Regions from separate parts of the Homo sapiens genome. Here regions 2, 3, 4 and 5 are each linked to region 1. The links come from fine-mapping of genetic effects on gene expression. A gene starts in region 1. Each other region holds a variant in brackets. All regions are shown on one strand. Distances are from middle to middle. Region 1 holds the start of MIS12 (MIS12 kinetochore complex component). Region 2 overlaps DHX33 (DEAH-box helicase 33). Region 3 has its middle 23 kb from the start of NLRP1. Region 4 holds the start of LOC101928044 (zinc finger CCHC domain-containing protein 9-like). Region 5 holds the start of C1QBP (complement C1q binding protein).

What was found. PIP is the estimated chance that this variant, and not a neighbour inherited with it, causes the effect.
Region 2: its variant is fine-mapped to the expression of MIS12 in whole blood (INTERVAL, PIP above 0.99).
Region 3: its variant is fine-mapped to the expression of MIS12 in whole blood (TOPMed, PIP above 0.99).
Region 4: its variant is fine-mapped to the expression of MIS12 in whole blood (INTERVAL, PIP above 0.99).
Region 5: its variant is fine-mapped to the expression of MIS12 in whole blood (INTERVAL, PIP 0.92).

The regions. Positions count from the first base shown.
Region 1 is chr17:5,483,116-5,489,240 of GRCh38, reverse strand. MIS12 (MIS12 kinetochore complex component) reads right to left here and starts at 2,675. Exons shown (of 3, transcript NM_001258217.2): 1 at 2,557-2,675; 2 at 652-1,045; 3 at 1-418. The coding sequence starts at 378. DERL2 (derlin 2) reads left to right here and starts at 3,063. Exons shown (of 7, transcript NM_016041.5): 1 at 3,063-3,172; 2 at 4,025-4,090. The coding sequence starts at 3,080. RefSeq lists enhancers at 2,056-2,165, 2,406-2,505, 3,126-3,185, 3,226-3,405 and silencers at 2,679-2,846, 2,796-2,955.
Region 2 is chr17:5,458,401-5,464,787 of GRCh38, reverse strand. It overlaps DHX33 (DEAH-box helicase 33), which reads left to right. Exons shown (of 12, transcript NM_020162.4): 2 at 1,099-1,259; 3 at 2,242-2,469; 4 at 3,679-3,849. Among named protein-coding and RNA genes, the nearest start is that of DHX33, 7.4 kb to the left of the region's middle. The variant G/AG (reference allele first, on the strand shown) is at 2,852.
Region 3 is chr17:5,604,189-5,610,575 of GRCh38, reverse strand. No RefSeq gene overlaps it. Among named protein-coding and RNA genes, the nearest start is that of NLRP1, 23 kb to the right of the region's middle. The variant C/A (reference allele first, on the strand shown) is at 3,628.
Region 4 is chr17:5,507,405-5,513,791 of GRCh38, reverse strand. It overlaps LOC101928044 (zinc finger CCHC domain-containing protein 9-like), which reads left to right and starts at 1,066. Exons shown (of 1, transcript XM_047437231.1): 1 at 1,066-1,840. The coding sequence starts at 1,165. The coding sequence ends at 1,752. It also overlaps a transcript of NLRP1 not described here. The variant TG/G (reference allele first, on the strand shown) is at 2,742.
Region 5 is chr17:5,436,069-5,442,455 of GRCh38, reverse strand. C1QBP (complement C1q binding protein) reads left to right here and starts at 3,301. Exons shown (of 6, transcript NM_001212.4): 1 at 3,301-3,614; 2 at 4,183-4,333. The coding sequence starts at 3,383. It overlaps DHX33 (DEAH-box helicase 33), which reads left to right. Exons shown (of 12, transcript NM_020162.4): 12 at 1-1,539. RefSeq lists an enhancer at 2,905-3,084 and silencers at 3,144-3,326, 3,305-3,474, 3,585-3,634. The variant T/AGAGT (reference allele first, on the strand shown) is at 2,878.

The DNA.
Region 1 (6,125 bases):
CTCCTGTAACTGTTCAATTTCTTTCTGGAGATGCTGAAAATCTTCCTCACTATAAGGTGTCTCCTTACATTTATCTTCAGGAAGCAAGATGTTTGAGGGAATACGTAAAATCAGCTGCAAAAACAGTTGCTCCATTTTGCTAAAAAGGTTATCAAAATGTCCTTTCATGAAGCAAAGAAACTTCTCTGTGCATTTGCGAATCTGCACTGGGCTAATGTCACAGTCTGGGATGCCATCCAGCTTCTTCAGAATAACCTGTTCAACGGCCTGCATCACTTCAAATAGGTAGTCTTGAAATGCAATGTAGATCCGAAGCATGCACGTTTGTGGCGTGAAGCCAAAGAACTGGGCCTCGTAGGTCATTGGATCCACAGACATCTTGGCTTATTTTGCTATGTTGTTTTCAGTCGTGAAAAACCTGCAAATGTAAAAAGGAAATAATTCATTTGGAAAAAAAAAATCTTCTGCAGGAAGTAACCAATCACATTACAGATAGCAAACAAAGAAGCAAATCAATAAAAAATAAGGAGTTTGTGTTCCTTTATACCTGATGCCACTCCCACAACAGGATATAAACTCTTTGCCTCTCTGAGGCTCCTTCCATCAGCCTATACCCTCCCTTTTCCCCTCCTCGTTGTTCACTTCCCTTACCTGTGACTTTGGCACAGATCAGTCTTCTGAATTATCATCCTAGACAACTTTGAAGTCTAGACAGATGACTTAACCAATGCCCTAGAGACTCAGTTTCTTGAGCTTCAATGACCTATAGCTCCACCTTTTAGCCACCTGGCTCTTGATATTTGTAACTACTCTTCCAAACTGCTTCTACTTTTTGACTACTGCCTCCTACACAATTCTTCCAATTCTTACCCATATACTCATATTATACCCTAATCTTCAAGATTTACAGCCCCTCCACCCTCTCTTTCTGTTCTCAGCCTCTGCCACTTCTCTTCTTTCCTTATTCATTTTAGGCCTCATGATCTATCATTTTGATCACTCCGTTGCCAATGTCCTCAATTTGCTTGTCCTCCAGCCAAGCCATCTGAAAAAAACCCAATTAGAAGATGAGTAAGTCCCTTGTCAGCTTTATAACCCTGACATGTTTTTTCAAGGGTCTGCGAGTAATTCCTCTCAAATATAAACATCTAGGAAAATAAAACCCCTATCTCCTTGTCATTGTGGGAATTCAACCTAGGCATCTTTTTCTGAGATGAAATGATATTGCTTGTCATAGAAATAAGAGAAATTTTATTATTCCTTCAGATAAAGGCAATTAGCTAAAACAAACTGCTACTTCAATTATCAGGTGAATTTAGGACGCACTTTATGAAATAATTTGCAATAAGCAGTACAGTCAAATCTTATGGGAAGATAAGATGCAGCCAATCTTAAGAATTTATGTTTGTAGGCTGAGCACGATAGCTCATGCCTGTAATCTCAGCACTTTAGGAGGCCGGATGGACGAATCACCTGAGGTCAGGAGTTCGAGACCAGCCTGGCCAACATGGCGAAACCCTATCTCTCCTAGAAATACAAAAATTACCCAGGCGTGATGGTGGATACTTGCAATCCCAGCTACTCGGGAGGCTGAGGCAGGAGAATCACTGGAACCCGAGAGGCGAAGGTTGCGGTGAGCCGAGATTGTGCCACTGCACCCCAGCCTGGGCAACAGAGCGAGACTCTGTCTCAAAAAATAAAATAAAATAAAAATTTACGTTTGTAATGGTTAAATATGGAGTGGTTATAACTGTTTGGCTGTATATGTAAGGTAGGATTTCTTTCTGTTTTTCTTTTTTTCTTTTGAGACATGTTGTCGCTCTGTCGCCCAGGCTGGAATGCAGTGGCACGATCACAGATCACTGCAGCCTCAACCTCCCGCGCCCAAGCAATCCTCCCACCTCAGTCTCCCAAGTAGCCGGGACAACAGGTGCAGGCCACCATGCCTGGCTAATTTTCTTGTTGTTGTTGTTGTTTGAGACAAAGTGTCACTCTTTCGCCCAGGCTGGAGTACAGTGGTATGATCTCGGCTCGCTACAACCTCTGCCTCCTAAGTTCAAGTGATCCTCTTAGCTCAGCCTCCCAAGTAGCTGGGATTACAGGTGGGCGCCATCTCAAACAACAACAAAAAAATACACTTCCTTGATTAACTCCTTTCTTCGAATTCCCATTAGGACCTCTCTTCGGGCACTGACTGATGAACTTCTACCGCCTCATCTTCTCTGCTAGACTTAGAGTTCCTGAGAGCAGAATAAATGCGGCTTGATCAGTATTTGCCGATTCAACGCAGAGGTGCCCAGGTCATCTCGGCGAGTTGAGCTGTCTAAGACCCCGCGATCGCGCAGGACAGGACCCAGAAGCCAGAGCGCAGGAACTGCTTCCGGCCGGCTCCCGGCTTCCGTCGGGCCCCGCGCCCGCGCTGCATGCTGGGATCTTCAGGTCGGAGGCCGGGGTGAGGCCGACCCACAGGCCGCCTTGCTCCCTCGCGAAGACGCTTATGCCAGTCTCGCCCGTCCCCGCTCCTCCTCAGAGAAAATGCTGCCCCGCAGCACTTACCGGAGCGACCATGAGGGTGACGATTTGAAGCACACACAGGCTTCCCGCCACCTCCTTTAAACCGCCGCTGGCTTGCCAGGGACAGACGGCGCGGTTGGCTCCCCAAAATTCCGACTGATACGCGCCTCGGCGAGCGAAAGCAAACGCGGGATACTCTCGCGTTCCTGATTGGCTGGTTGTGGACACCTCAATTATGACAGAAAGGGGCCGGGCGGGAAAGTTAGCTGTGGCCGGCGGGGATTGGCAGAAGGAACCTGTACTTACTCGTTTTTCCCGGACGTTGGCTGGTGGAGAAGAGAGGGTGGGGAGATGGGGCGCTGGGGGGGGGCGGTGGCGACGCAACTCGTGATTGGCGGATGTGCGTTCCTTAGGTCTCTACGGATTGCGGTTGCTTGGCGTTGATTGGGCAGTCGCGGGAAAACTAAAGTGGGCGGGGGGCCTTTGGGCCCGCCCCGCCGCCGGGGCCTGCTGGCGGAAGGGGAAATGGGGTGGGTGGGGGGTGGGGCAGGCGACGGTGGGGAAGATGGCGTACCAGAGCTTGCGGCTGGAGTACCTGCAGATCCCACCGGTCAGCCGCGCCTACACCACTGCCTGCGTCCTCACCACCGCCGCCGTGGTGAGCAGCTGCAGTGCCACCTTCTCATTATCTGGGCTGGATATGACTGGGTCTTCAGGAAACTGGGGTTTGGGCCTCGGGGAGGCCCAGAGGGGCTGGTCCCGGGGATGGGTGGAGGCGTACAGGGATTACTCTGGGGTTCGAGTTGGCGCCAAGAATGCTTATCCAGTGACGCGAGAAGGGAGTGCTGCTTCATGGGGGGTCAGGTCAGTTTCTAAGAGATGAGCGCCGGACCTATAGCGGGTTAGGGTTGCGGGAGCCTCCCACCCAAGAAATGTGTCCGAGAGCTCTGCCAATGGCCAGGTGGTACCATGGTGACTAGTGAGAGGAAGGTCCGTTTAGTGAAGAAACAGGAATGGGGAAAGCAAGCTGGAAACTGTCGAGAGGGGAATGGCTTATAATAAAAAGGGTCTCTGGATCTAAATAAGGGGCTAGCTGGAGGTACCCAGCCCTAACGGTGGCAGGGTCTCCAGTCTCCGTTATTTCAAGTGAGTTTTGTTGTTTCATACAGCTGTTTCAGGTGGTGCCCATGTGGTGGGTAGATTCATAGCAGCTGTTTTTATTTGTCCTGTGTCTAAAATATCACCACCTGTCTGCCTCATTTCTTCATGTCAGCCTCAACTATTGCAACATAAAACAGACTTTTTTGTGTTAGGTATTGAGGATACAAAGAATTCTACCAATCCTAGAGAATTCTTTACCAACCTCTTCCTCTGGCCTAAGAAGAAAGGCTTAAAGGAAATCACGTCTAAGTGACCGAGAGTTGGAAATTGCTAGACCTACTAATTCTTTGTTGTAAATGATGAAATTTTGTTTCTTGATTTGCTTTAAGAAGCTCTTTTTCTATTTCAGCAGTTGGAATTGATCACACCTTTTCAGTTGTACTTCAATCCTGAATTAATCTTTAAACACTTTCAAGTAAGTGGTTCATCACAATAGTGATTAATGCTTCAGTTTCTTCTTTTTCTTACTGTTTAGTAGCAAATCCTGTTATACACTATCCTAAAAAAGAACCCAGTGGGGACCTTTGATTATAAGTTGCCTTGTCAGGATATAAAGCAGTGATTCTGCAGCCTGGTTGGACTTGAGAATCCCTTAGGGAACTTTGAAGAGATTCTCAAGCTCCTCAACAAGTACCAAATCAGAATTTGCAAGGGTAGGAATTAAAATCTGTGTTTTATTTTTAAAGTTCCCTGCATCGTTTTGATGTGTCCAGTTCCTGTATTTGGAAATCACTGGTTTAGACTTAACGTTGTCCTATGAGAGGAGGCTGACTAGCTAGCTGCTTAGGGGTTGTCTCACAGGGATGGCCTTATTTTGTCCATTCAGCACCTAGGCACACCCACCACCTTGGTGTTATCACCATGGTCCAGAAACTCAATTCTGTTAGTGCTTTTAAATTGTGATCTGTCTTCCAGGGATCAGATCATACTAACCAAATTCCAAACATCTAAAGCTATATGGTGGTTTATTAGATTACAATGGGAGATGGTCCTTTCCAGTGATTAAAATGCCAAAAGAGGCTGGGCACAGTGGCTCACGCCTGTAATCCCAGCACTTTGGGAGGCTGAGGCAGGCAGATCACCTGAGGTCAGGAGTTCAAGACCAGCCTGGCCAACATGGTAAAGCCCTGTCTCTTACTAAAAATACAAAAATTAGCCAGGCGTGATGGCACATGCCTGTAATCCTAGCTACTGGCGAGGCTGAGGCAGGAGAATCACTTGAACCCGGGAGGCGGAGGTTGCAGTGAGCCGAGATTGTGCCATTGCACTCCAGCCTGGGAGACAAGAGCGAAACCCTGTCTCAAAATAAAATGCTAAAAGAGAGATGGATTTTTCTGTTCCAGGATGATCTTACCATAGTTGGAGTAGGGGAGAGACCCAAAAGCCAATAACTGTGCCTCTACACATGCTGTTCTGTCTGTCTCAAATGTGTTTCATTCACTTTATATCCATTGAACTCTAGCTTGCCTTTCAAAACGCAGCTTTTGTGTAACCTTTATGTACTCATCCTCCTTTGTTTTAGAACATCTCTCACTTTTACTTTGCAGTTATGCGTATGCTTGTCTCCTCACTAGGATGAGGACTCTAAAATCTGGATAATTAATATGTAGAACTGAATTGTTTCAACTTTAATAGTTAACAATTCTCAAGAATTTAGTGGTCTGTAAAGCAGTCCTGTCATCTCTTGTCACTGTGTTCGCACAATACTCACATGGCGCTGTAGTTCCATCCAAGTAAGTCTTGCTTCCTACTTGGCTTTACTCTGCCTGGGGTTAAACTCTTGATGACACTGTGCATTTGGAGTTAGGAGTTCTAGATTTGCCATCAGAGTTTCCATCTACTCCTGCGGGTCCTTGGTCAGGACATTTAAAAGTTCAACTTTTAGCTGAATAACTAGTATTCAGCTAGTCAGTCAACTTTTAGTCTCCTATCTGTGAATTGGGGGTAGCTTGCTTGTCTGTGGATCACAAGAGATAGTAGACATTTTAAAACGTTAAGCACTCTACAATTGAGAGTGGTTACTGTGGGTGTGGAGATGTTGGGTAGGGAAGGGTCTATCAGGGTTTCCAACAAGAAAATAAGTGTTTGGCAGGGTGCAGTGGCTCACGCCTGTAATCCCAGCACTTTGGGAGGCTGAGGTGGATGATCCCCTGAGGCCAGGAGTTTGAGTCAGCCTGGACAACATAGTGAGAACCTATCTCTTTTTTTTTTTTTTTAAGTTTTAGTTTAAAAAAAAAGAATTTTCCTTTCTTTTAGATGTTTCTGACTGCCTAATGTAAACATTTCTCAGCAATTTATATTAGACCCTGAAGTTTTTCTCTGATATGTCAGTTCTATTTATTATATGATGATACTACATATGAAAGCACTGTTTTCTGTTCTGCCGATTAACCTAGTCTTTCCAGCAAACTTTCTCCATACGACGATCACAATTTAAAATTTTCTTTCCT
Region 2 (6,387 bases), 25 kb after region 1:
GGAGTTGAAGGCAGCAGTGCATGAATGGATGTCTCTTCATGTCAGTCAGTATGCAGAAATCTATGTAACGGTTGTATTTTATTTTATATTTTAACTATGTAAATTACCTTTTGAACATTTATATTGTTTCCAATTTTTTTCTGTCAGGAGCAAAATTGAATAAAATCTCTTTGAAGCTGTATCTTTATACACATGTTTACTTATTTTGTTAGAATCAATTTCTGCAAGTAGAATTGTGGGTCAAGGGATATAAACATTTTAAAGATTTAAAAAACATAATTTGACCACCTGAGAAACAATACCAATTAACCAGCTAATTTCACCAGCAGTATACATACCTGAATGCCCATTCTCCTGAGGCTTTACCAACACAGGGTATTTTATCTTTTACTTCTGACTTTGAGCTGTTTGTTTGGTGAAATTTATGTCAATTTGCTTTTTGTTGTTGTTGTTTTTCTAAGACAGGGTGTCATTCCGTTGCCCATGCTGGAGTGTAGTGGTGTGATCATGGCTCACTGCAGCCTCAACCTCTCAGGCTCAAGCAATATGCCCACCTCAGCCTTCAGAGTAGCTGGGACCACAGGCGTGCACCACCACGTCCAACTAATGTTTGTATTTTTTGTAGAGACGGCATCTCCCTATGTTGCCCAGGAGCAACTCCTGGGCTCAAGTGATCCTCCTCCCTTGGCCTCCCCACGTGCTAGGATTACAGGCATGAGCCACTGTGCCCAGCCGATTTGCATTTCTTTTTTTATTTTTATTATTTTTTTTGAGACAGTGTCTCACACTATCTCCCAGGCTGGCATGCAGTGGCACAATCATGGCTTACTGTAACCTTGAACTCCTGGGCCTCATGATCCTTCTGTCTCAGCCTCCCTAGTAGCTGGGACTACAGGCACATGCAACCACACCAGGCTAATTGTTGTTGTTGTTGAGACGGGGTCTTGCTATGTTGCCCAGGCTGATTTTGAACTCCTGGGCTCAAGAGAGCCTCCTACCTCGGCCTCCCAAAGTGCTGAGATTATAGGTGCCAGCCCTGGTGCCGAGCCCCAGTTTGCATTTCAGTGAGCCTTTTTTTTTTTTCCCCCTCTCTCCTAGGGGAAACTGGCTCTGGGAAGACAACTCAGATCCCTCAGTACCTGTATGAAGGAGGGATCAGCCGCCAGGGCATCATTGCTGTGACCCAGCCTCGTCGAGTAGCTGCCATCTCTCTTGCTACTAGAGTCTCAGATGAGAAGAGAACTGAACTTGGGAAGCTGGTACCTGGTTCCTTCTTGACTATTAGTACTTCTTGACTCAACAGCTCTCTCCCCATGCCCACTGCCTTTTATTTTTCTAAACAAGACTCCTTTTACATAGTGAGCTGCTTTCTTGCCTATTCTTCCGAGAGTTCTTTACCAGCTCCTGAGAGATCAGGGGCTCTATTGGTCCCATGTGCTTTGCTTTCAAAATCTGTCGTCAGGTTGGATAAATTAGTTGCTTTCCTTGAACATCTTAAGCCTTCAGTAACCTCTCTTAACTCTCTTATCTATATATCATTCTAGAAAAATTGTAAGCATTATGCCAGTGTATATGTGAGTATTGAGAATGAGTCTCAGAACTGTATATAAGACAGATTTATTTGTGTGTGTGTGTACTCATTTCACTTAAAAATACCTTAGACGTCTTTTCATATCTGTACATAGCTTCACATGAAACTTTTTTTTTTTTGGAGATAGTCTCGCTCGGTCGCCCAGGCTGAGGTGCAGTGGCGCAATCTTGGCTCACTGCAACTTCCGCCTCCAACCAAGCAATTCTCCTGCCTCAGCCTCCCGAGTAGCTGGGATTACAGACACGTGCCACCACACCCAGTGGCTAATTTTTGTATTTTTTAGTAGAGACGGGATTTCAGCATGTTGGTCAGGCTGGTCTCAAACTCCTGACCTCGTGATCTGCCTGCCCCAACCTCCCAAAGTGCTGGGATTACAGGTGTGAGCCACCACACCCGGCCCACATGAAACTATTAAATAGCTTGAGGTAGAAGGTTAATTTTAAATATTCCTTGTAATAGTTACATTAATTGCGGTTAAAGTAAACTTGACCATTGTCTCTCTCAGCAGCTAGACTGCATGCTTCCCAAGGGAGTGGGAAGCGTTGGTGTTGGTCTTGTTCACTGTGGTAGTGCAAGTGCCCAACTTAGTGCCGGACACAGTGGGCGCTCAAGAAATGTTTGGTGACTGAATAAATTGTTTCCCTGCACAGGTTGGCTATACAGTGCGCTTTGATGATGTCACCTCAGAAGACACCAGGATCAAGTTTCTGACAGATGGCATGCTTCTGCGTGAAGCAATTTCAGACTCTTTGCTTCGGAAATACAGCTGTGTCATTTTGGATGAAGCTCACGAACGGACTATCCACACAGATGTGCTCTTTGGAGTGGTGAAAGCTGCACAGAAGAGGAGAAAGGAACTCGGGAAACTTCCTCTGAAAGTATGAGGGAAACTTCCCCTGAAAGTATGAGGGAAACTTCCCCTGAAAGTATGCGTAACACACAGAAGGAAACAGGCCTGGCTGGGCGCGGTGGCTCACGCCTGTAATCCCAGCACTTTGGGAGGCCAAGGCCGGTGGATCACCTGAGGTCAGGAGTTCGAGACCAGCCTGGCCAACGTGGTGAAACCCCGTCTCTACTAAAAATATAAAAATTAGCTGGGTGTGGTGGCACACATCTGTAATCCCAGCTACTTGGGTGGCTGAGGCATGAGAATCGCCTGAACCCAGGAGGCGGAGGTTGCGGTGAGCTGAGATCACACCACTGCACTCCAGCCTGGGTGACAGAGCGAGACTCTGTCTCAAAAAAAAAAAAAAAAAAAAA[G/AG]TGAAAGTTCATTAAATAGCATAACTTTATAGACAACTTGTATTTCAGGGAGTTGGCAGAAATATGATCTGAAAGTATCCAGATAATTGGCCCGGCACGGTGGCTCACGCCTGTAATCCCAGCACTTTGGGAGGCCGAGGCCGGTGGATCACCTGAGGTCAGGAGATCGAGACCAGCCTGGCCAACGTGGTGAAACCCCGTCTCTACTAAAAATACAAAAAATGATCCAGGCATGGTGGCACATGCCTGTCGTTCCAGCTACTAGGGAGGCTGAGGCAGGAGAGTCACTTGAACAAGACTGAAATTCCGTCTTGATTTTTTTTTTTTTTTGCACTCTGTTACCCAGGCTGCAGCGTGGTGACGCGATCTCAGCTCACTGCAAGCTCCGCCTCCCAGGTTCACGCCATTGCTTACCTCAGCCTCCCAAGTAGCTGGGACTACAGGCGCCCACCACCGCACCTGGCTAATTTTTTGTATTTTTAGTAGAGACGGGGTTTCACCGTGTTAGCCAGGATGGCCTCGATCTCCTGACCTCGTGATCCGCCTGCCTCGGCCTCCCAAAGTGCTGGGGCTGGGATTACAGACGTGAGCCACCGTGCCCGGTGAAACTCCATCTCAAAAAAAAAAAAAGAAGGAAAGGAAAGGAAACAGACCTGTGTGCTCTAGCAGGGTGTTTTCCTCTGCCTGTTCTGCTCAGAGCCTTGGAAGAAAGTAAACTGTGATGGGGGTGGCACAGGCCTCAATCATCTGCTTTTGGGGCTCGAGAGGGACACGGAAAGGCCTTCCCACTATTTGTTTCTGGTCCTCCTCTTCGTTCTCTTATGCAGGTGATTGTGATGTCAGCTACGATGGATGTGGACCTGTTCTCTCAGTATTTCAATGGCGCCCCCGTCCTCTACCTAGAGGGTCGGCAGCATCCGATCCAGGTGTTTTACACCAAACAGCCTCAGAATGATTACCTGCACGCCGCGCTTGTCTCCGTCTTCCAGATCCACCAGGTATGGTGCTGGGGGCAAATTCCTGAAAAGTTCTCTTTTATCTTGCAGTTGGTAGTGAGAACATTGAGCCTTGAAAAGAAAAGCTACTGAATAAAACAACTTTGTGAGTTGTGTCATCAAGATGAATAAGGAGGCCAGGTGCGGTGGCTCACGCCTGTAATCCCTGCACTTTGGGAGGCCGAGGCAGGTGGATCACCTGAGGTCAGGAGTTCAAGACCAGCCTGGCCAACATGGTGAAACCCCATCTCTACTAAAAATACAAAAATTAGCCAGGCATGATGGCGGGTGCCTGTAATCCCAGCTACTCGGGATGCTGAGGTGGGAGAATCGCCTGAATCCGGGAGGTGGAAGTTGCAATGAGGCGAGATTGCACCACTGCACTCCAGCCTAGGTGACAGAGGGAGACTCCGTCTGAAAAAAAAAACAAAAAAAAAACAATGAATAAGGAGTTCATTTGCTGTGTCTGGATTTTTATCCTTTATTTATGATATCTCTAATTTTCATTGAAAAGAAAAATAATTCAGTTCTGACCAGCAGCTTTCTTACACTGAGCCAGAAAATTTTCATGTTAAAGCAGTAGCTTACCAACTTTCCTTGATTATAACCGCCATTAAGAAGTACTTTTGGCTGGGCACAGTGGCTCACGCCTGTAATCCCAGCACTTTGGGAGGCCGAGGCGGGTGGATCATGAAGTCAGGAGATCGAGACCCTCCTGACTAACATGGTGAAACCTCGTCTGTACTAAAAATACAAAAAATTAGCCGGGTGTGGTAGCGGGCGCCTGTAGTCCCAGCTACTCGGGAGACTGAGGCAAGAGAATGGCGCGAACCCAGGTGGCAGAGCTTGCAGTGAGCCGAGATCGCGCCACTGCACTCCAGCCTGGGTGACAGGGCGAGGGTCTGTCTCAAAAAAAAAAAAAAAAAGGTACTTTTTCTTTTGCAACCCCGTACGCTATACATATAACTGAAATAGGTCTATGAAACACTGCTTCTGGCCAGGCATGGTGGCTCACACCTGTAATCCCAACGCTTTGGGAGGCTAAGGCAGGAGGATCACTTGAGTCCAGGAGTTCAAGACCAGTCTGACAACATAGCAAAACCCTGTCTCTATAAAAAAAATTATAAAAATTATTTTTTAAAGAAGAAGTACTGTGTCTTTTACTACATGTAGGGTACTCTGATATTTTGTGCCTCATTTAAAGAAAATGTTGGCTGGGCACAGTAGCTCACACCTGTAATCCTAGCACTTTGGGAAGCAGAGGTGGGTAGGATTGCTTGAGCTCAGGAGTTTGAGACCAGCCCGGGCAACATAGCAAGACTTGTCTCTACTAAAAATCAAACAATCAGCCAGGTGTGGTGGTGCATGCCTATAGTCCCAGCTACTTGGGATGCTGAGGTAGGAGGATCACTTAAGCCTGGAAGATTAAGGCTGCAGTGAACTATGATCACCGCACTCCAGCCCGGGAAACAGAGCAAGATCCTATCTCAAAAAAAGAAAAAGTTGACATTAGCCCAATAATGGGTTGCAACTTAGAGTTTCTTTTTTTTTTAAACTATATTAGGAGAATATTTAAAAATATTTTCTCATTTTATTAAACATTTACTTCAAAAATTTGAATCATTAAGTCACTTTTGTTTAATTTGTATAAAATTTAATGTTTTTACCTTCCTATTAGCTTTCTGAGAAAATCCAGAGGCAAACTTTTAAAATAACTTTTTATTTAATTAATTTACTTATTTAGAGACGGGGTCTCATTCTGTCACCCAGGCTGGAGTGCAGTGGCATAATCACAGCTACTACAGCCTCGATCTCCTGGGCTCAAGCCGTCCTCCTACCTTTGCCTCCTGAGTAGCTGGAACTACAGGCACACACCAGTACACCTGGCTAATTTTTTTTTATGTTTTGTAGAGACAGGGTCTTGCTACGTTGCCCGGACTGGTCTCAAACTCCTGACCTCAAGTGATTTTCCCGACTCAGCCTCCCAAAGCACTGGGATTGCAGATGTGAGAAACCGTGCCCAGTCAATTTTTATTTTAAAATAAGTGATGCATATGGGATTTAAAGTTTTAAAAAGTCAAGTAGTTTATAGTAAAAGGTTTATAATAAAAGAATAGCAGTTGTTTTTACTTCAACATCCCAGATTTCTGCTGTTTAGGGCACCTACTTTCAATCTCTACATATTGCTTTCATGTTTCTAAACTACCTTGCTTTGACCACTATTTTTTGAGTTATGGGTATCAGGCATCATATGCTAATTTCTTACCATGGTGACAAAAGTTTAGAATGCCCCTCCCCAACCCCCTTTATCTCCAACCTCTTGACAGTTCTATCATGTTTTTGTTTAGGTTTTTGTTTTTGAGGCAGGATCTTGCTGTGTTGCCCAGGCTGGTCGTGAACTCCCGGGCTCAATCAGTCCTCCCACCTCAGCATTGGGAGTAGCTAGGACTACATGCTTGCACACCTGTGTCTGGCCTATTATGATGTTTTCTGAGTCCAGTATCAATACTAAGAATATTATGACCACACATTGCTAGTAGC
Region 3 (6,387 bases), 120 kb before region 1:
TGAGTGCAGTGGCTCACACCTGTAATTCCAGCATTTTGGGAGGCCGAGGGCGGTGGATTTCTTGAGCCCAGGAGTTCAAGACTAGCCTGGGAAACATAGTGAGACCTTGTCTCTATGAAAAATACAAAAATTAGCCAGGCGTGGTGGTGTGCACCTGTAGTCCCAGCTACTAGGGAGGCTGAGGCAGGAGGATTGCTTGAGCCCGGTTGCAGTAAGCTGAGATTGTGCCACTGCACTCCAGCCTTGGCGACAGAGCCAGACCCTGTCTCAAAAAATAAATAAATAAAACAGTGAGGACAGTGGAACTAGAATGTCAGATGTCTGTTGTAACTTTCACTTTTCCCCCTCCAAAGTCTGTGGTAGACTCACAAATAGATCAAGCCACCTTTTCCTCTGAGCCTGAACTTGAATTCGGAATTAATCTCCAGAAGGTACACCTTGTGGCCACCACTAAAATGATCTGAAGTTGGTTCATTAGATGAAATGATTGTTGTATCCTGAACTAGAATTGCCTCACTTAGAGCAAGATGTAACATTGGCTATCATCCAGCTCACCCTTCTTCTGAAGATGCAGGAATTTAGGTCCAGAGAAAGAAACAGCATGGCTGAGAGCACACAGCTAGTTAATGGAAGGCCATGCCAGAATCTGGGCTGGTATTCCTTTCACACCACACAGCTGGAAAGAGAGGGCGCTGGTCCTCAAATGCAGGTCTTCCAGTTCCAGGGATGTCCTCTCCCTCTGCTCTCTCATAGACACAGAACTGGGGGAAATGATTCCACTGGGTGGAGGGAGAGGGGGCTCTTCTTATTGCTTGGTAGGAGTAGAAAACCCTATGAAAGGCGCAGCCCTCTGTCAGCCCTCTCTACAAAACTCACCGTCTTCATTCACACTGCTTCACTTGACATCTTTTCTGTATAGTCTTTGAAACGATTATGTCAACATAGGAAAGGAAAGAGGTTAACACACTACAAAAAGGCCAGAGAGAAGAGCAGATGAGAGCTCATACTGGATGGAGATCACCTGGGTTTGCATCTTGACTCCAACACTTACCAGCTCTGTGATGTTGGGCAAGTCACAAGTCACTTATCTCTCCGTGCCTCAGTTTCCTCACCTGTAAAGTGGAAATACTAATAGTAATTACCTCAGAATGGTTATGAGGAGGCTGTTTAATATATATGTTAAATGTATGTAAAATATACATATAGGACTTAGAAGAGTCTCTGACACTTAGTAGAATTATACAAACATCAATTGTTACCTATTCCAGTTTTATTACCTTAGAGTTGTAGAAAATGCAGCAATTTGGAAAGCTCTGCTCTCTGCAGCCTTGCTCTCACCTGGCAGCATTCTGTCACCAACCAAATGAACCTGAAAGCCCCTCAGCCACCTCCAAGACATCACGACTTCACATACGTCATATGGACATAGGTGGTGAGAGATGCCCCTAAGGAAAAGTTCTTTTTCCATTTGATGAGAAACTAGAACTCAATTTTCAAGAAAGTCCGCATGCTTTTAGAGCTGCTTTTAGCAGAAAGGAGCCACTGAGTTGAAAGTTTCAGGGCCTTTTCTATTGGTGTGTGTGACTCATTTAGAGCAATGGTGATAAATGAGAGAAGGTCATGGGAGCTGGGGCAAGGCGGCAGGATTTGGTGGGGGGAATCGGAGCTCCATTGTTCGCAATGGATTGCTGGAGGAAATGCTGTTTGCTTGGGAGTCATTTGCAATTAACTCCACCTAGGATGAAAAATGGTGTGGGTATGAAAATGTTATACTACCCGTGTAATAATAAATCGTTAGCAGATGCTGTGGGCATGAAGATTGTTATTAGTGACTTTGGGGAGAAAAAGGTTTGTGGGAAATGTTTGATTCGAAGGGAGGACATGGTTCTTGCTCCAGCCCTGCCTGTTTGGTTGGCCACAGCACTGGGAGTTTATAGAATGGCTTGAAAAGGAGAAAGGCGTCATGTGCAGAGGGACCTGATCTGGCTCGTCCAAGCTGATGAGAGCTCTCTGTCCAGATGTGGAGGCCTGGAGCTCACCGTGCCCCTCCCGTAGGGAGACTGTATCTGGGCTTCTCGCTCTACTTTAGGTCCTGAGTCCTTGGAGGTCTGGGGCATTGCTGCTCTTGTGCATACCTGAGGGCCTCTGGCTGGAAGTGTCACACTCCAGGAAGAGCCACAATTTGGTTCAGCACAGCCATCATTTTTGGGGTGCTCTCTCTGTGCCAAATTCTCAACTCAACTCTCACCAGAGTGTTCCAAAAATTCAATCGTAAGAAGCAACAAAAATGTCTGACCCTCCCTCTCCCAAGAGTCTTCTGGGTAATCAAAGCTTGCAGCACATCCCACAAATATCTGCCTTTGCAGCCTTGTCTTGCACCCAGCATGGGCCCGGATAGTGCAAGGCTGAAGCACTCAGTGTTGGATAGCAAAGTGCTGGGTGGTGCAGTGGTTAAGCGTGGGCTTTGAGGTTAGCCCTGACCAGATTTGCCTGCAGCTTTGCCTCTTCTTAGTAGTAGTGTGGTTTTTGGCAAGTGAGCTCACCTCACTGATCCTCAGTTTTCTCACCTCTCAAATGGGCAAACAAGTAATATGTATCCTCAAGTACTTTTTTTTTTTCTTGAAACAGGGTCTTGTTCTTTCACCCAGACTGTAGTGCAGTGGCATGATCATACTTCACTGCAGCCTCAAACTCCTAGGCTTAAGCAATATTCCAACCTCAGCCTTCTGAGTAGCCAGGACCACAGACACATGCCACCATACCTGGCTAATTTTCTCTACCTTTTATAGAAACAGGGGGTCTCCCCATGTTTCCCAGGCTGGTCTCTAACTCCTGGCCTCAAGTGATCTTCCCGTGTTGGCCTCCCAAAGTGCTAGGATTTCAGGGCTGAGCCACAGTGCCCAGCCCCCACGTAATTTTTGAGGATTAAATAAGATATAGAAAACACTTAATCCAGGCCAGGTGCGGTGGCTCACGCCTGTAATCCCAACACTTCGGGAGGCTGAGGCAGGCAGATCACCTGAAGTCAGGAGTTCGAGACCAGCCTGACCAACATGGTGAAACCCCATCTTCACTAAAAATACAAAATTAGCCGGGCATGGTGGCGCATGCCTGTAATCCCAGCTACTGAAGAGGCTGAGGCAGGAGAATCACTTGAACCCAGGAGGCGGAGGTTGCGGTGAGCTGAGATCGCGCCATTACACTCCAGTCTGGGCAACAAGAGCAAAACTCCGTCTCAAAAAAAAAGAAAAGAAAACACTTAGTCCAATCCTGGAGAGTAGTAATAAGTCCTCACATGTTTTCAATGGTGACGTGTCAAACCCCTCACCGTGAGGGTTTCCATATCCAGGCTCTCCCCCTCCTGCCACCCTTCCCTTTGGTGCACTGCTTCCTCCCTGAGGCAGCCTAGCCAGCACTTCAGAGCATGAACTTTGGGCTCCACGGCCCCATCTTTAAGCCCTGGCTTCTCTACTCACTAAGTCTGCAAACACAAAGACGTGTCTTAGTTCTCCAGGCCGTGGTTGTCTCATGTGTAGAATGGGGATAATAGTGGCATATGCCACATCCGTGCTGTTAGGAGGGCTAAGTGAGACAGCGGCAGTAAACCACCGGGCACATGGGATGTGC[C/A]CCTCAGTGCCGAGTCTCAGAACTCTGCTAGATGCTGTGGGCAGGAGGACTAGAACAGGAATGAGGTCCATGCCCCAGGAGCTTGCAGTCCAGAACTCCATGCTGGCAAAGAGGCGTCTTGGTCCAGGCTCACTCTGCTCAACATTGGGGTGAGCTGGGGCCACAGATCTCTGCACTTCAGCACTCCTTTACCCCATTCCCCTCCCCCTCCTTCACTGCCATCGTCAGCCAAATCCTGTTTCCTTCACACCTGAGATCCACAGACAATTGGGCTTAAATCCGCACTTTCTCACTGTGTGACCTTGACCTTGGGCATGTTGCTTAACCTCTCTGAGCCCATTTTCTCACCTGCAGCTGTAGGGACCAAATAAGATGGAGCAGGCAGCATTCCTAGTCCAAAGCCTGGCACTGTTTCCAGGTTGAACTGTTCCCTCCATCCTTACTTTCGGTCCTAAGTGCAAACTTCTCTCTCTGCCATCTCCTCTCCAGATATATACTGTGCCCAAACACTTCTTCCAACACAGTGTGCCCTGTGGCTCCTGTTGTATTGGAATCAGAGTCTTCTGCATTCCACATCTTCTCTAGAACCACTCTTTCCATTTGCATCTTAGGGTAGAAACAGTGGCTCTCTCCCAATGTTAGCTCTCCTCACTGGGGTAGATTATTGTGTTTATGGCTCCAACTTTGTTCACTCTTTCTTTTTTTTTTTTTTTTTTTTTGAGACAGGGTCTCACTCTGTCACGCATACTGGAATACACAGGTACAATCACAGCTCACTGCAGCCTCAACCTCCCAGGCTCAGGTGATCCTCCCACCTCGGCCTCCTTGGTAGCTAGGACTACAGGTGCCTGCCACCACACCCAGCTAGTTTTTGTATTTTTTTTTTTTTTTAGAGATGGGATTTTGCTGTATTGCCCAGTCTGGTCTCAAACTCCTGGCCTCAAGTGATCTGCCCACCTCGGCCCCCCAAGTGCTGGGATTACAGGTGTGAGCCACCACACCCAGCCCTTTCTCCATCCCCTTATCTTCCCCTTACCTGATTCAGTACTTGCTGTGTGACTTGCTTCAGCCAATGGGACAATAGCAATGTGTGGCAAGAAGATATTTGGAAAGTGTTTGTGCCCTGGGGCTTGTTCTCTCTTGTGGCTCTTGGAACCCTCAGACAATCAGAGGAAGAGCGGCTCCAGTCATCCCAGCCATCTCAGCAAAGATGTCATAAACCCCACAACCCGAGCTGACCTATGAGCTGACCAAAAATGCAGGAGAGATTTAGGCCCAACAGAAGAACCATCCTGCTAAACACAGCCCAAATTGTTCACCTACAAAATCTGAACGTAATAAACAAATGATAGTTTAAGCAACTAAAATTTAGGTGGTTTGTTACACAACAAAAGCTAACTGAGGCCGGGCACAGTGGCTCATGCCTTAATCCTAGCACTTTGGGAGGCCAAGGTGGGTGGATCACCTGGGGTTAGGAGTTCAAGACCAGCCTGGCCAACATGGTGAAACCCTGTCTCTACTAAAATTAGAAAAATCAGCCAGACGTGGTGGCAGGAACCTATAATCCCAGCTACTTGGGAGGCTGAGGCAGGAGAATCGCTTGAACCCAAGAGGCGGGGGTTGCAGTAAGCCAAGATCATGCCACTGCACTCCAGCCTGGGTAACAGAGCAAGACTCCATCTCAAAAAACAAAAAGAAGCGAAAAAAAGCTAACTGATACACCCATGCCTACCGTGCAGCACTCAGGTGTTTTGGATGGCCTCTAATTAGTCTAATCCAATCTGGATAATCCCAGTCTCCTTGCCACAGGCTCTGGGATGAATAGAATTGAGCCAGTCAGCACACGAAATCCACCAGCCACCAACTTGTTCAGGAAAGGGCATGGGATCCAATTCAAGCCAATGAAACCACAGAGAGGTTTGCTGGAAGATTCTGAGAATAAAGCTTCCTTTATTATGAAAAATCTTTCAGACAATTTCTCTTCCTCTGGATTTTATGTGTGGATGTGGAGCCAGAAACTGCTACCTCTTTTTTGCCTCCAAAAAGGAAGCAGTCTGAAGACAAAGACTAAGCAAAAAGAGAGTACAGATGAGGGAATTGCAGAAAAAAGGACACTGGAGCCTTTGGATTAAGCTAACCTAAGACCATTGTACACATGGGCTTCACATTATATGAGCCAATAAATTTCCTTATTATTTAAACCAGTGTGAGTAAGGTTTTCTCCTATTTGCAGCCAAAGTCATCCCAATTGCTGTATCTCCTATCATAAAATGAAGAATGTCTCTTAAATGAATACACTTCCCACAATAACTTCACTCTGCAAGCGCTTCCCCCAACCTACCTGGTGACAAATTGAGGGCCCTAGTCAAGGAATGAGCACCTCACTCCCTCTGAGATAATGGATCTCTTCCCTGGGAATTTTTAAAATGTGTGTCCCAGAAGGTCAGTCTCTTTGGTGATTAAAGCTATAAGAAGTAAACCTCAGAACTGCATTGTGTCCTGCCACATGAAGAAAGTGATTCATTATGGAAACGGCAAATGAAACAAACATGTCCAAGAAGCAAGATATGGACAGAGAAAAGGACAGAGACACACATACAGTGAAAGACCTGTTGGCGTTAAAATCCCTGGTTCCAATAGTTCTTGAGACCCAGTTGCTTCCCTGACTGTCCCATAGCTTGACTAATCTACCCTTCCTAGGATACTCGAAGCCAACAAATTATCCTTCTCTTGCTTAAGTGTTTTTGAGGTTGGACCATT
Region 4 (6,387 bases), 24 kb before region 1:
TTTATACGAGGAGTCTTTGTGAAACCAGTCCTGCCAACCTCCTATCTTATCCCCACCTCAGACATTACATACTCGTCCTTAATCTTAAGAGGTTGTAGAAGGACAGAGATCTATCTTCTGTCACTGCTTCATGCTGAACAGGGGCCATCATCCCTACCTGCTCTGGAGGCATAGAAATGTCTTCGTACCTGATCGAATGACTTATAGGGACTCCATCTTTTCTGCAGTGGCACAGGCTGGAACACTGGACTAATTATTTTTCTCTGAAACTGTTGTAGCCTGGAAGACATAAACTTGAACCGTCCGAACACCTGATGAATATAACAAATATTTTTAAAATCAAATAGCACCTAGTGATAATTCATAAAATACTTAAGCCCAGTTTTAAAGAAGAGATCAAAGCCAAGCATGGTGGCTCATGCATGTAATCTTAACACTTTGGGAGGCCAAGGCAGGAGGATCACTTGAGCTCAGGCTTTTGAGACTAGCCCGGGCAACATAGACTTTGTCTCTTTAAAAAAATAAGAAAGAAAAAAATAAGAGATCAGATGCCATTTGGAATCTAAGTGAATAGGCTGGAAAACTAGTCTTCTGTTGTCTGAAATACAAAGCCAAACAGATTTTTAATAAGAGAGATTTTTATGAGAACAGAAGAAAAAAAGGTTAATGCTGGACACAGTCTATCCAGGTATTAGACTCAAAAGCATCTTTAGTTATAAAGCAGGAAAGTGGTGGCAATCTGACACGCCTGTATCACAAGGTATAAGCTTTAGCTTGCAGGGCCTCAGGAGAAAGCTAGTAGTAATTTTACTGTATGCAGATCTCTAAGCTGGGGGTGACACAGGAGGTGGGCAGGACTGGCTTCACAAGATGCAGGTCACAAAGACTCCACTGATAAGATGCGGTAAAGAAGCTGGCCAAAGCCCACCAAAGCCAAGATGGCAATGAAAGGGACTCCTGGTTGTCCTCACTGCTCATTATATGCTAATTTTCACCCTCCTGTAGGACCAGCTCCAGCAGTTGTGGGACCCAGTGCAAAATGGAAACACAGGGCCCCTCGTTCAAAAATGATAAGAATGTCAAGACGGTGACAACAGAACATGAAATCAAGCGCCAGGCCCTGCTGAGCTCAGGGCTCTGTGTGACCGCACAGGTCACACACCCATGAGACTGGCCTTGTCTTTCGGGTCCTTCACGCCCCACCCACCCATCTCCTTTACCACATGCAGACCTCCACTCTCCACACAACCCTTCCTCCAAGAGGACAGTCAATGGGAAGTAAGAAGATTTAAAAGACAAGGGGCAAAGAAAAATGCAATGGTGTGTTTCCATTGTAGAAAACCTGGTCGTGGAATTGCGGATTGCCCTGCCGCCCTTGAAAATCAAGATATGGGCACTAGAAGATGTTACAAGTGTGGGTCCACAGATCACGAAATAACCAAGTGTAAGGCTAAAGTAGACCCGCCTCTTGGCGAATGTCCTTTTGCAGAATGTTTTGTCTGTGGAGAAATGGGGCACCTGTCTAGATCTTGTCCTGATAATCCCAAAGGACTCTATGCTGATGGTAGTGGTTGCCAACTTCATGGCTCTGTGGAACATTTAAAGAAAGATTGCCCTGAAAGTGAGAATTCAGATCGAATGGCCACAGTTGGTCTGTGGGCAAAGGGAATAAGTGCAGACTATGAAGACATTGTGGATGCACCAAAACCACAAAAACCCAAAACAAAAATACCTAAAGGTGTTAATTTTTGATAACAACTAGTACTGTCATTAGTTACCACCTCATTGTTACTTTCTAAACCAGGCCCACTTCACAAGTTACAGCTGGGCTCCCTTGTAGCCAGGACTATACTGTAAATATCAGTATGATCTGGGTGTGGTCAAAAACAATTTTCAACAGAGAGAAAGAAGAAAGAAGAGAGAGAAAGAAAAAGGAAGAGAAAGAGGAAGAGGAAGGAATGAAGAAAAAGAGGAAGGAAGGAAGGAAAGAGAGAAAGGAAAGAGAAAGAAAGAAGAAAGAGAAAGAGAAAGAAAAAGAAAAGAGAAAGGGAGGGAGGGAAAGAAGGAAGGACCTACGCGAGGAGGGGCTCCGCCAACCCTCTAAGCCCCGCAACCCCCGCATGCCCCGCCTCCTTCTGCAGACCTCCCCGTCCCTCATCCCAGCAAGTCCTCACGTTAGTTGCCGGAAGCCTAGGAAATGTATTCCTAAATCTGGAGTCGTCTCCATGGCAGCGAGCCCCGAAGTGGAGCCAGTCTTGGAGTAGGAGAAAGGCCAGACACAAACAAGTGTGTGGGGATGGGGGAGACACACATGCATGTCCGCTTTGGATCCAGATTCTCTTTTTTTTTTTTAGACGGAGGCTCGCTCTGTCGCCCAGGCTGGAGTGCAGTGGCGCAATCTCAGCTCACTGCACTCACTGCAACCTCCACCTCCCGGGTTCAAACGATTCTCCTGCCTCAGCCTCCCGAGTAGCTGGGATTACAGGCGCCCACCACCACACCCGGATAAATTTTTGTATTTTTAGTAGAGACGGGGTTTCACCATGTTGGCCAGGCTGGTCTCGAACTCCTGGCATCAAGTGATCCGCCCGCCTCGGCCTCCTAAAGTGCTGGGATTACAAGTGTGAGCCACCGTGCCCGGCCTGGATCTGGATTCTAATAGCAACAGCTAGAATTCTGAGGGACAGGCAGTGAGCTGGGAATCAAATTCTTGGCTCTACCACCCATTAGATGTGTGATCT[TG/G]AAACAGGTTTTCAGATGTGTAAGAAGGGAATAGCAAAGCTTGCGTCAAACGGTTGTTTGACTAGGTGAGCTCATGAGTGGGAAGTTGTTCTGGGCGAGCTGGTACACAACACTAGGCAGACAGTAAATCTTAGCTTCTTTGAGCCTGAGGCTGTTGTAGGTGCCAGTGATAACAGAGGCCAGAGTATCTATTCTCAAGCAATTTATATTCTAGTGGCAAGGAGATACGAAATACGCACCCATGTCTGTAATCCCAGCACTTTGAGAGGCGAAGGCCTGAAGATCTATTGAGACCAGGAGTTTGAGACCAGGAGTTCAAGACCAGCCTGGGCAACATAGCAAGACCCCGTCTCTTAAAAAAAAAAATTTTTTTTCATTTTTTTGGCCAGATGCAGTGGCTCATGCCTGTAATCCTAGCACTTTGGGATGTCAAGGCGGACGGATCACCTGAGGTTAAGAGTTTAAGAGTTCAAGACCAGCCTGGCCAACATGGTGAAACTCTGTCTCTACAAAAATACAAAAATTAGCTGGGCATGATGGCAGGTGCCTGTAACCCCAGCTACTCGGGAGGCTGAGGCAGCAGAATTGCTTGTACGTGGGAGGCACAGGTTGCAGTGAGCCGAGATCACGCCATTGCCCTCCAGCCTGGGCAACAGAGCGAGCCTCTATCTCAAAAAAAAAAACCAGTTTTTTTAATTAGCCGGGCATCGTGGTACATGCCTGTATTCCCAGATACTCTGGAGGCTGAGGCAGAAGGGTCCCTTGAGCCTAGGCTCCAGTGAGCCATAATCATGCCACTGCACTCCAGCCCTGGAGACAGAGCAAGATCCTGTCTCTAAATAAAAATAATTGGCTGGGTGCTTACCTATAATCCTAGCACTTTGGGAGGCTGAGGCCAATGAATTGCTTGAGTCCAGGAGTTTGAGACCAGCCTGGGCAGCATAGTGAGACACTGTCTCTATTTAAAAAAAAAAAAGAAGAAGAAGAATAGAAGAAAGATCTTTTTGAATAGAGATAGATGGCAACTTCCTCAGAATGGATGTGACGGTTGAACAGCACATGGAGATGATGGGAATGAGAAGTGCAGGGCAGCAGGGATCATTCTCAACAATGGTGGAAAATTGGAGTCTTCCAGGATCACTGTGTTCAGACTAATCCACCCTACATGAAGTTTTCTTTCTCTTTAAAGTGGGCCACTTGGAACAGGGACCCCTGTCAAAGAATGCATTCAAGAATCATGGATTTGGCTGGGCGAGGTGACTCACGCCTGTAATCTCAACACTTTGGGAGGCTGAGACGGATGAATCACCTCAAGTCAGGAGTTTGAGACCGGCCTGGCCAACATAGCAAAACCCCATCTCTACTAAAAATACAAACAAAATGAGCTGGGCGTGCTGGCTCATGCAGTGAGCCGAGATCACGCCATTGTACTCCAGTGTAGGCAACAAGAGTGAGACTCCATCTCAGAAAAACGGAAGAATCATGGAATGCTTCCACCAGGCACTCTGATGGATGGTGGGAGCCCTGGGCTGAGCTTAATGCCTTTCCTGAAGGAGTCACTCTCCCAAGGAGTAGGATTTGCCAGGTGCTAGAATCCGATAGAGGCCATGAGCAATACTTGTCTCAATGGTGGGATAACTACAGATTTAAACTTTGAGCCATGCACACACTCTGGTCCAGGCCCCAGTCCTGGAGCAAGAAGGAAGCAGGGGAAGGAAGAAGGTCCTCTGGAACCTGTGATTACCTGTGTTGTGTCAGGTTGTATGATTGTGGGGACCCCATTGAGTGCTACTCACAGGTTAGCCCCAGGCAGGTAGGAATGAGAAGGAGGAGAATAGGAGAAGAAGAGGAAAGGCTAGACAGGAGCATGACTGTTGGAGAGAACTTGAAGGGAAGTCTAGCAGTAGTATGGACGCTGTGCTATTGGTCAGGAGTCCTGCTGTGTTCTTGGTTTCCTAGCAACTGCTGTTAAGCAGGTAGTTGCTAGGCAATGCGGGGCCATCTAGGCGGTTAGGTAAGGACCTTTGTCTGCGTGGGCATGAATCAGACCATCACAGAGTATTGTTAATCCTGAAAATGGCCACTGGGTCCATTACTTAGATTTTTTTGGCCTTGTTGCACAGAAACTAATATAACCATGGTGCACAAGTTCTGGTCAAATGAGAAAGAAGTCACCCCATGATCTCATTATCCAAACAATACAAAAATTCTGTCTTTCCTCTTTCCATTCCAGTCTTTCTCTGCAGGAACACATTTTCATCTTGTTATCATCCTAGTACATGGGGTTTTAAACCTTGTTTTTTTGACTTTGATTTAGATCATCACAAGCATCCCTCAAGCTACTTAAGAGTTTTCAGGATAATCTTCCCCTGCATGACTCCTTGCAGTAGATATATCATTTACTTAACTATTCTCCTCTTGTTCTGACATTGAGTTTGCTTCCAATTTTTTGCCACAATAAGCAGTACTGCAATACACGTCTTTCTGCAGAGAGCTTTTCGTTATCCTTTAGATCACTGTCTTGAAGTCAATACTAAGGGATAGTATCAAAGGGCATAAATAGTCTCATGACTTTCTATATTTTGCAATAGCTTCCCTCATGCTGGGTGCAGTGGCTCAAGCCTGTAATTCTCACACTTTAAGAAGCCAAGAAGGAGGATCACTTGAGGCCAGGAGTTCAAGGCCAGCCTAGGCAACATAGCAAGACTCTGTCTCTACAAAACAAATTTATTTTAATTTTTATTTTTCTTTTGAGACAGAGTCTCGTTCGGTCACCCAGGCTGGAGTGCAGTGGCGCAATCTCAGCTCACTGCAACCTCGGCCTCCTAGGTTCAAGTGATTCTCCTGCCTCAGCCATCTCAGTAGCTGGGATTACAGGTGCACACCACCATACCCAGCTAATTTTTTTTTTTTTCTGAGACCGAGTCTCGCTCTGTCCCCCAGGCTGGAGTGCAATGACACGATGTCAGCTCACCGCAACCTCCGCCTCCATGGTTCAAGCAATTCTCCTGCCTCAGCCTCCTGAGTAGCTAGGATTACAGGCGTGCGCCACCACGCCTGGCTAATTTTTGTATTTTTAGTAGAGATGGGGTTTCACCATGTTGGCCAGGCTGGTCTCGAACTCCTGACCTTGTGATCCGCCCACCTAAGCCTCCCGAAGTGCTGGGATTACAGGTGTGAGCCACTGCGCCTGGCCGCTGGCTAATTTTTTTCTTTTTTGAGACGGAGTCTCGCTTTGTTGCCCAGGTTGGGGTGCAGTGGCGCAATCTCGGCTCACTACAACCCCCGCCTCCCGAGTTCAAGCGATTCTCCTGCCTCAGCCTCCTGAGTTTCCAGTAACTGGGACTACAGGCACGTGCCACCATGCCTGGATAATTTTTTGTATCTTTAATAGAGACGGGGTTTCACTGTGTTAGCCAGGATGGACTCGATCTCCTGACCTCGTGATCTACCCGCCTCGGCCTCCCAGTGGGATTACAGGCGTGAGCCACAACACCCAGCCAATTTTTGTAGTTTTAGTAGAGGCAGGGTTTCACCATGTTGCCCAGGCTCGTCTGGAACTCCTGGACTCAAGCAATCTGCCCACCTCGGCCTCCCAGAGTGTTGGAGTTACAGGCTTGAGCCACCATGCCCGGCTGAATTTCT
Region 5 (6,387 bases), 47 kb after region 1:
TCTTACTGAATTCTTAAACTTTGAACCAGTTCTTCCACTTACTGACTTGTTACCACTGCTGACTTTCTGAAAAGTTTTCCAGTTTTTGTTTTTTGTTTTTTGTTTTCCAGTAGGGGATTAGAATGTTTAGTCCTACTTAGTAAGAAAAATATTGTATTTTTAATCATTCATAGTGCTGGTAAAAAAAAAAAAAAAAAAAAAAAAATTGGGGGGTGGCCGGGCGCAGTGGCTCACACCTGTAATCCCAGCACTTTGGGAGGCCAAGGCGGGCGGATCACCTCATGCCTGTAATCCCAGCATTGGGATGGGAGGCTGAGGTGGGTGGATTGCTTGAGAAGTTCAAGACCAGCCTGGCCAACATGGCAAAACCCCGTCTCTACTAAAAATAGAAAACTTAGCTGGGCATGGTGGCACACGCCTGTAATCCCAGCTACCGGGGAGGCTGAGGCACAAGAATTGCTTGAACTTGGGAGGCAGAGTTTGTAGTGAGCCAAGATCACGCCACTGCATTCCAGCCTGGCCGACAGTGTGAGACGGTCTCAGAAAAAAAAAGAAAGAAAGAAAGAAAAAGAAAAAACTTGGGGTAATTTATGTCCAGCTTAAGTACCTGAACAGTTTCCGGAAATGTATATTTTTTTTCTGAGAGGCAAAGGATGTAAACAGCTTCTAAGTAGCTTTAATGTTTCTGTACAGAAATAAGTTTATCCCTGTAACATTGTGGTAGAGTTTTAATACAGTATTTAGTTTTTTATTGGGCTTTTTTAAAAAGTTAACTTTTAACATAGCTGCTCAGGGATTAAATCAGATTGGAAAACCCATTCTGACTCCACATACTGCTACAAAGAAATACATCGTTGTTTATATTGAGCTGCAGGAGATAGTACACTTTAAACTTAAGAAAGTTAAATGTTTCACAATAACATTGCAATATAATCTTCAGCTACTCTCTTTCCATTGGTAAAATCTCTGATGGTGTGATAACTCTTTGCCAACCTACGAAACCCATATCTGGAAGAATCACCAGCTCCCGTGAGCAGCTTCATGTAAATAGATGCACTCCAAGCAGATTGCATGCCTCAGGTGTTTGTCTTCTAGTAATCATGGAGTGTGCAACACCCAGAGTAACACTACAAGGGGCAGGACTGCAAACAGCAGGTCCTGGCTAAAAACCCTTAATGCTGCATTGCTGCCAGTTGTAAAGAGATGCCTGAATGGAGGCAAGTTCTGCCCTGTGGGTGAAACTGATGATGTACTGTACTGTCATATATAAATCCACTAAATCCAGCTACCAGGAACTGCCTGGAACTGTGGCCATGCATTTTTTTTTTTCTTTAAAGACCAGTGTGATAGTAGGCCATGCATCTGAGATACGATATTCCTTGGTAACTAGAGGGAGAAAAAAAAATCAAGTAGGTTCAGGCTTATGTTGTATTTTGAGAGTCTGGTTTTATTTGAACAGAAATAACTCTACAGAAAGCTCTTGTAAATAATGCTCAAATTTGCACCCGACGATCAAATCCATTAAAAATGAATCTTGTATATGATGTGTGTGGCTTGTTTCTTGCATCTCTTTTCCATTATTCATAGAAAATTATTTAGAAAATATTAAGTGTTAGTCTTACCATGAGTTAGTAAGACATACCTTCTTAGTAGCTTATATGTCCTGTATATCCTGGGAAGGTAGGATTGTTGATTTTTAATAAATCTGAACCCTGTCTTTGGGTTATATTAATTTACTGGAGAAACTCACAGAACTCAGGGAAACACATTTACCGGTTTCATACAAAAGATATGACCAAGGATACAGATAAGGAGATGAGCAGGGTGGGGAATGGGGAAGAAGCTCCCAGCCTCCATGCCGTCCCTGGACCACCACCCTCCAGGAACCTCCATGTATTTAGCTATCAGAGGCTCTCCAAACCCTGTCCTCGGGTTTTTATGGAAGCCTCTGGACTTATCTAAATGATATAAGCTGGCTTCTTGTCCCCAGAAAAATGATGTTCCATTAGAACTTGGATGCAAGGTTGGAGGTGCAGAGAGGGAAGGTCACAAAAATTAATCATGGATCCTGCCCTTGAGGATGTCACAGTCTGGTTGGGTTTAACCTGGTTAAAGCAGCAACGCTAGGAGGTTCCTGTTGAAAAGAGAATGAAGCATATGGGCTGGGTGCGCACAAGCATGAGTTCCGAGCCGGTGGAAAAAAAGGTTCTAGAAGGCCTCTTTCAGGAAAACCCTCAGACTTTCCTTTGCTCTCACAACACAACAATCAACACAGAAGACTTATGTGGCCAAAGGTTTGGGTTTTTCCCCTCCACACTAAGCAGCAGACACCAGCTGGGTGTCCTCCAATTCAATCCCAACAGTATCTACCTGGAGATAGTGTCAGATCCCATAGGTTGAGGGCTCAGTCCCCAAGACCGCCCCCACCTTCAGACAGCAATGGCAAGTCTGGGCCTCTGAAACTTCCGACCAACCCGCTTCAAGTTGGGGTTCCCACGACCCCCCTCTTTGGATTATGTTAACTCACTGGAGCAGTTCACAGAACTCAGGGAAACACATTCACCGGTTTCATATAAAGGATATGACCAAGGATACAGATGAGATGAGCAGGGTGGGGAATGGGGAAGAAGCTCCGAGGTTCCTTGCCTACCCTGGGCCACCACCCTCCAGGAACCTCTACGTATTCAGCTGTCAGAGGCTCTGCAAACCCTCTCCTCTTGGGTTTTTATGGAAGCTTCTGGACATCAGCATCCCTTCCCCCAGGGTATATGGTGGGACCTTCTCTGGGAAGGGACTTAAGACCCATAATCAGAAATGTGGAAGGAGATTAGAGTCCTGCTTTGGGGCAGGTAAAAGGAGGGCAGGAGAAGGGGAGAG[T/AGAGT]CTGTTTCCTGAGGCCTAACACACCCAACATTATCACAGAACATTGTAACAAGGGCTATAGGAGTTACGACCCAGGAACTGTGGATGAAAACCAATACATATATATATCATAACACCACAGCCTCCTAGAGGAAAGTGACCGTGGAAGGGTCTGGTGAGAGCTGGCGGGAGACAAGAGTGCATTCCACGCAGCCCAAAAGCCTTGCGTGCTTTGAGAACAGCAGGTGGAAAGTGGGTAAGCGGCCACTAGAGGGAATTAAACAGCTTCGGACAGCGGACTCGGCAGCGCAGCAAGAAAGCTCCGGAATCCGGATTCGAGGCTTCCCGGGCTGCACCGGAGTCTCCAGCAGAGGGCGCGATTCCGCCCGCTGGCCTTAGGTCGTCAGAGCGCCGGCGCGGGAAGCGCTTCCGGGCAGGGGCGGGGCTTCCGGCGGCGCCTCAGGTCGCGGGGCGCCTAGGCCTGGGTTGTCCTTTGCATCTGCACGTGTTCGCAGTCGTTTCCGCGATGCTGCCTCTGCTGCGCTGCGTGCCCCGTGTGCTGGGCTCCTCCGTCGCCGGCCTCCGCGCTGCCGCGCCCGCCTCGCCTTTCCGGCAGCTCCTGCAGCCGGCACCCCGGCTGTGCACCCGGCCCTTCGGGCTGCTCAGCGTGCGCGCAGGTTCCGAGCGGCGGCCGGGCCTCCTGCGGCCTCGCGGACCCTGCGCCTGTGGCTGTGGCTGCGGCTCGCTGCACACCGACGGTGAGGTTTAGCGGGCCGGGGGTGTGGTTTGCGTTCAACAGAGGGAAAACGTAGACCAGGAATAGGGCCTGCAACCGACCTCTGAGGTCTGGGACATTTTTCCATTGATTGGCAACCAGCGGGCTAAACCCACGTATGATCATATTTCCCCCACCTCCCCTATCCAGCAGTTTCGTTTTCTTTTGGTAGGGGGTGAATAAAATTAAATACTAGGGTACCTTTTTCCTTAGTCTTATTCTATCGAAAGTGGACCTTTGGGAAGGCCCATGGTCGTGGTTGAAAATAGCATAGTTATATCGTTTGGCAAGTGGAAGAGGATTGGAAATTCTCCTGGTTTATAGCGGAAAGTGGTAATGCGTTCATTGTTGGAAATCACTTTTCCAGAATCAGGCTCAGCTTCCTACTACTATTATGGTATTTTTACCGATAAGGAAACAGGCTTCTAGAGTAACCGTAATAGCAGAGAGATTAGAAACAGTCCAGGTTTCTGGCTGCAATAACCTGGGTAATAGTTTTATGTTTTAGACTAACTGGCTTTCCTTTTTATGTATCTGGATTTCTTTTCTAGGAGACAAAGCTTTTGTTGATTTCCTGAGTGATGAAATTAAGGAGGAAAGAAAAATTCAGAAGCATAAAACCCTCCCTAAGATGTCTGGAGGTTGGGAGCTGGAACTGAATGGGACAGAAGCGAAATTAGTGCGGAAAGTTGCCGGGGAAAAGTAAGTACTGGTCTGGGGATCCCAGGGCAGCAACTCCCTTAACCTTGCAGGACCCATCCTGGGTCATCCCCAGAAGAGCCTTGAGTTCAGGTGTGGATACTTTGATAAATGGGTTTCAAGAGAGTGAAGGATTCATTTGGACAACTTCGTAAGCCCCAGGCAGTCCATTCACCGAACACAAATTTGCTGTGGGCTGGTTACTAAGGAGACAAAAATGTAGTGCAAAAAAGTACTGGCAGAATCAGTTTGATCTCTGATTTACAGCCCTGATAAAATAGGACACTGCTCTCTAATGTTTAGTATGGGTGAAAATGAAAAATATGTAACTTCTATGTAACAGGATGGGGTTACACTGTAGTAAGGGCTGCCATCAGAGGTGGGGAGTTTGTGACCTAAGTCAGCTCCCCCATCATCTCCTAAACTGTTAAAGTGTTTACACTTTTCTGCATTATAGTCATCCATAATCTCATTACACAGATAAACATTTGGCATCTTCCAGGTTTTTAAATTGAGCCTGGGCGCGGTGGCTCACACCCATAATCCCAGCACTTTGGGACGGGCAGATCATGAGGTCAGGAGAAAATCCTGGCTAACACTAAAACCCTGGCTCTAGTAAAAATTAACCGGGTATGGTGGCACGTGCCTGTAGTCCCAGCTACTCGGGAGGCTGAGGCAGGGGAATCGCTTGAACCTGGGAGGTGGAGGTTGCAGTGAGTCGAGATCGCGCCACCGCGCTCCAGCCTGGGCAACAGAGCAAGACGCCATCTCAATAATAAATAAATAAATTGAATTTCCTTCATAATTGACCTTATGATGTGTATGTAATTTTTTTAAATCACAGCTTTTATGAGATTTAATTGAGATGGCATACGATTTACCCATTTATTGAAGTTTATTAAATTAAGTGGTTCTTAGTCCTCGCAGAATTATGCATCAGTTATCACTACCTAATTCTAGAACACTGTTGTCATCCCCAAACAATACCTATTAGCAGTCACTCATTATTCCTCCCTGTAGCCACCCCAGGTAATCACTAAGCTACTTTCTCTATGGGATTGCCTCTTTTGGACATTTCATATAAATGGAGTCATACAATTTGTAGCTTCCCCCCCCAACCCCACGGAGTCTTGCTCTGTCACCCAGGATGGAGTGCAGTGGTGCGATCTTGGCTCACTGCAACCTCTGCCTCCCAGGTTCTGACAATTCTCCTGCCTCAGCCTCCTTAGCTGGGATTACAGGCGTGCGTCCGGTTAATTTTTGTATTTTTAGTAGAGACAGGGTTTCACCGTGTTGGCCAGGCTGGTCTCAAAGTCCTGACCTCGTGATCCGCCCGCCTTGGCCTCCCAAAGTGCTGGGATTTCAGGTGTGAGCCACCCTGCCCACCCTATTTACCTTTTTAATTGTTGGGTTGTAAAAGTTAAGTTTTTCTGGGTACAACTATCTTATCAAATTAATGATTTGTAAGTACTGTTTCCCATCTTGTGGGTTTCCTTTTCACTTTCTTGGTAATGTCCTCTGACACAAAAGTTTTTAATTTTGAGGAAGTTCAGTTTACCTATTTTTTTGGTCGCTTGTGCTTTTTTATTTATTTTTTACTTTGCTTCTAATTCACCAAGTGCAACTTGTGCTTTTTTAGTGTCACGTCTAAGAAACCACTGCCTAACCCAAGGTTGTGAAGATGTATGCCTTAATTTTTTCAAAGTTTTCTAGTTTTAGCTCTTAGTTTAGGTCTGTGATTCATTTTGAATATGGTGTGAAGTAGGGTCCTGATTCTCTTGCCTGTTGCATAGTGTGTTTTTGCCCTACACAGGTCAATTGTGTCTTCTGTAATCTCACCTAAACACCATTTGCGCAAGGTTTTCATAGCTATTTGGGGGCCATTAAAAATAATGCTCTGATGAACGTCATTCAATTTCTGTGCCCAGGAGCTCAGCTTAGTCAGCACAGTTGGAATTAGACAGATTTTGTCAACCTCAGACTGCCTCTGTTGCCATGGAAAGGTGGCTTCCTGGCAGAGCAGCTAGTTAGCACAAGTGGAGGGCGGCACTTCATGT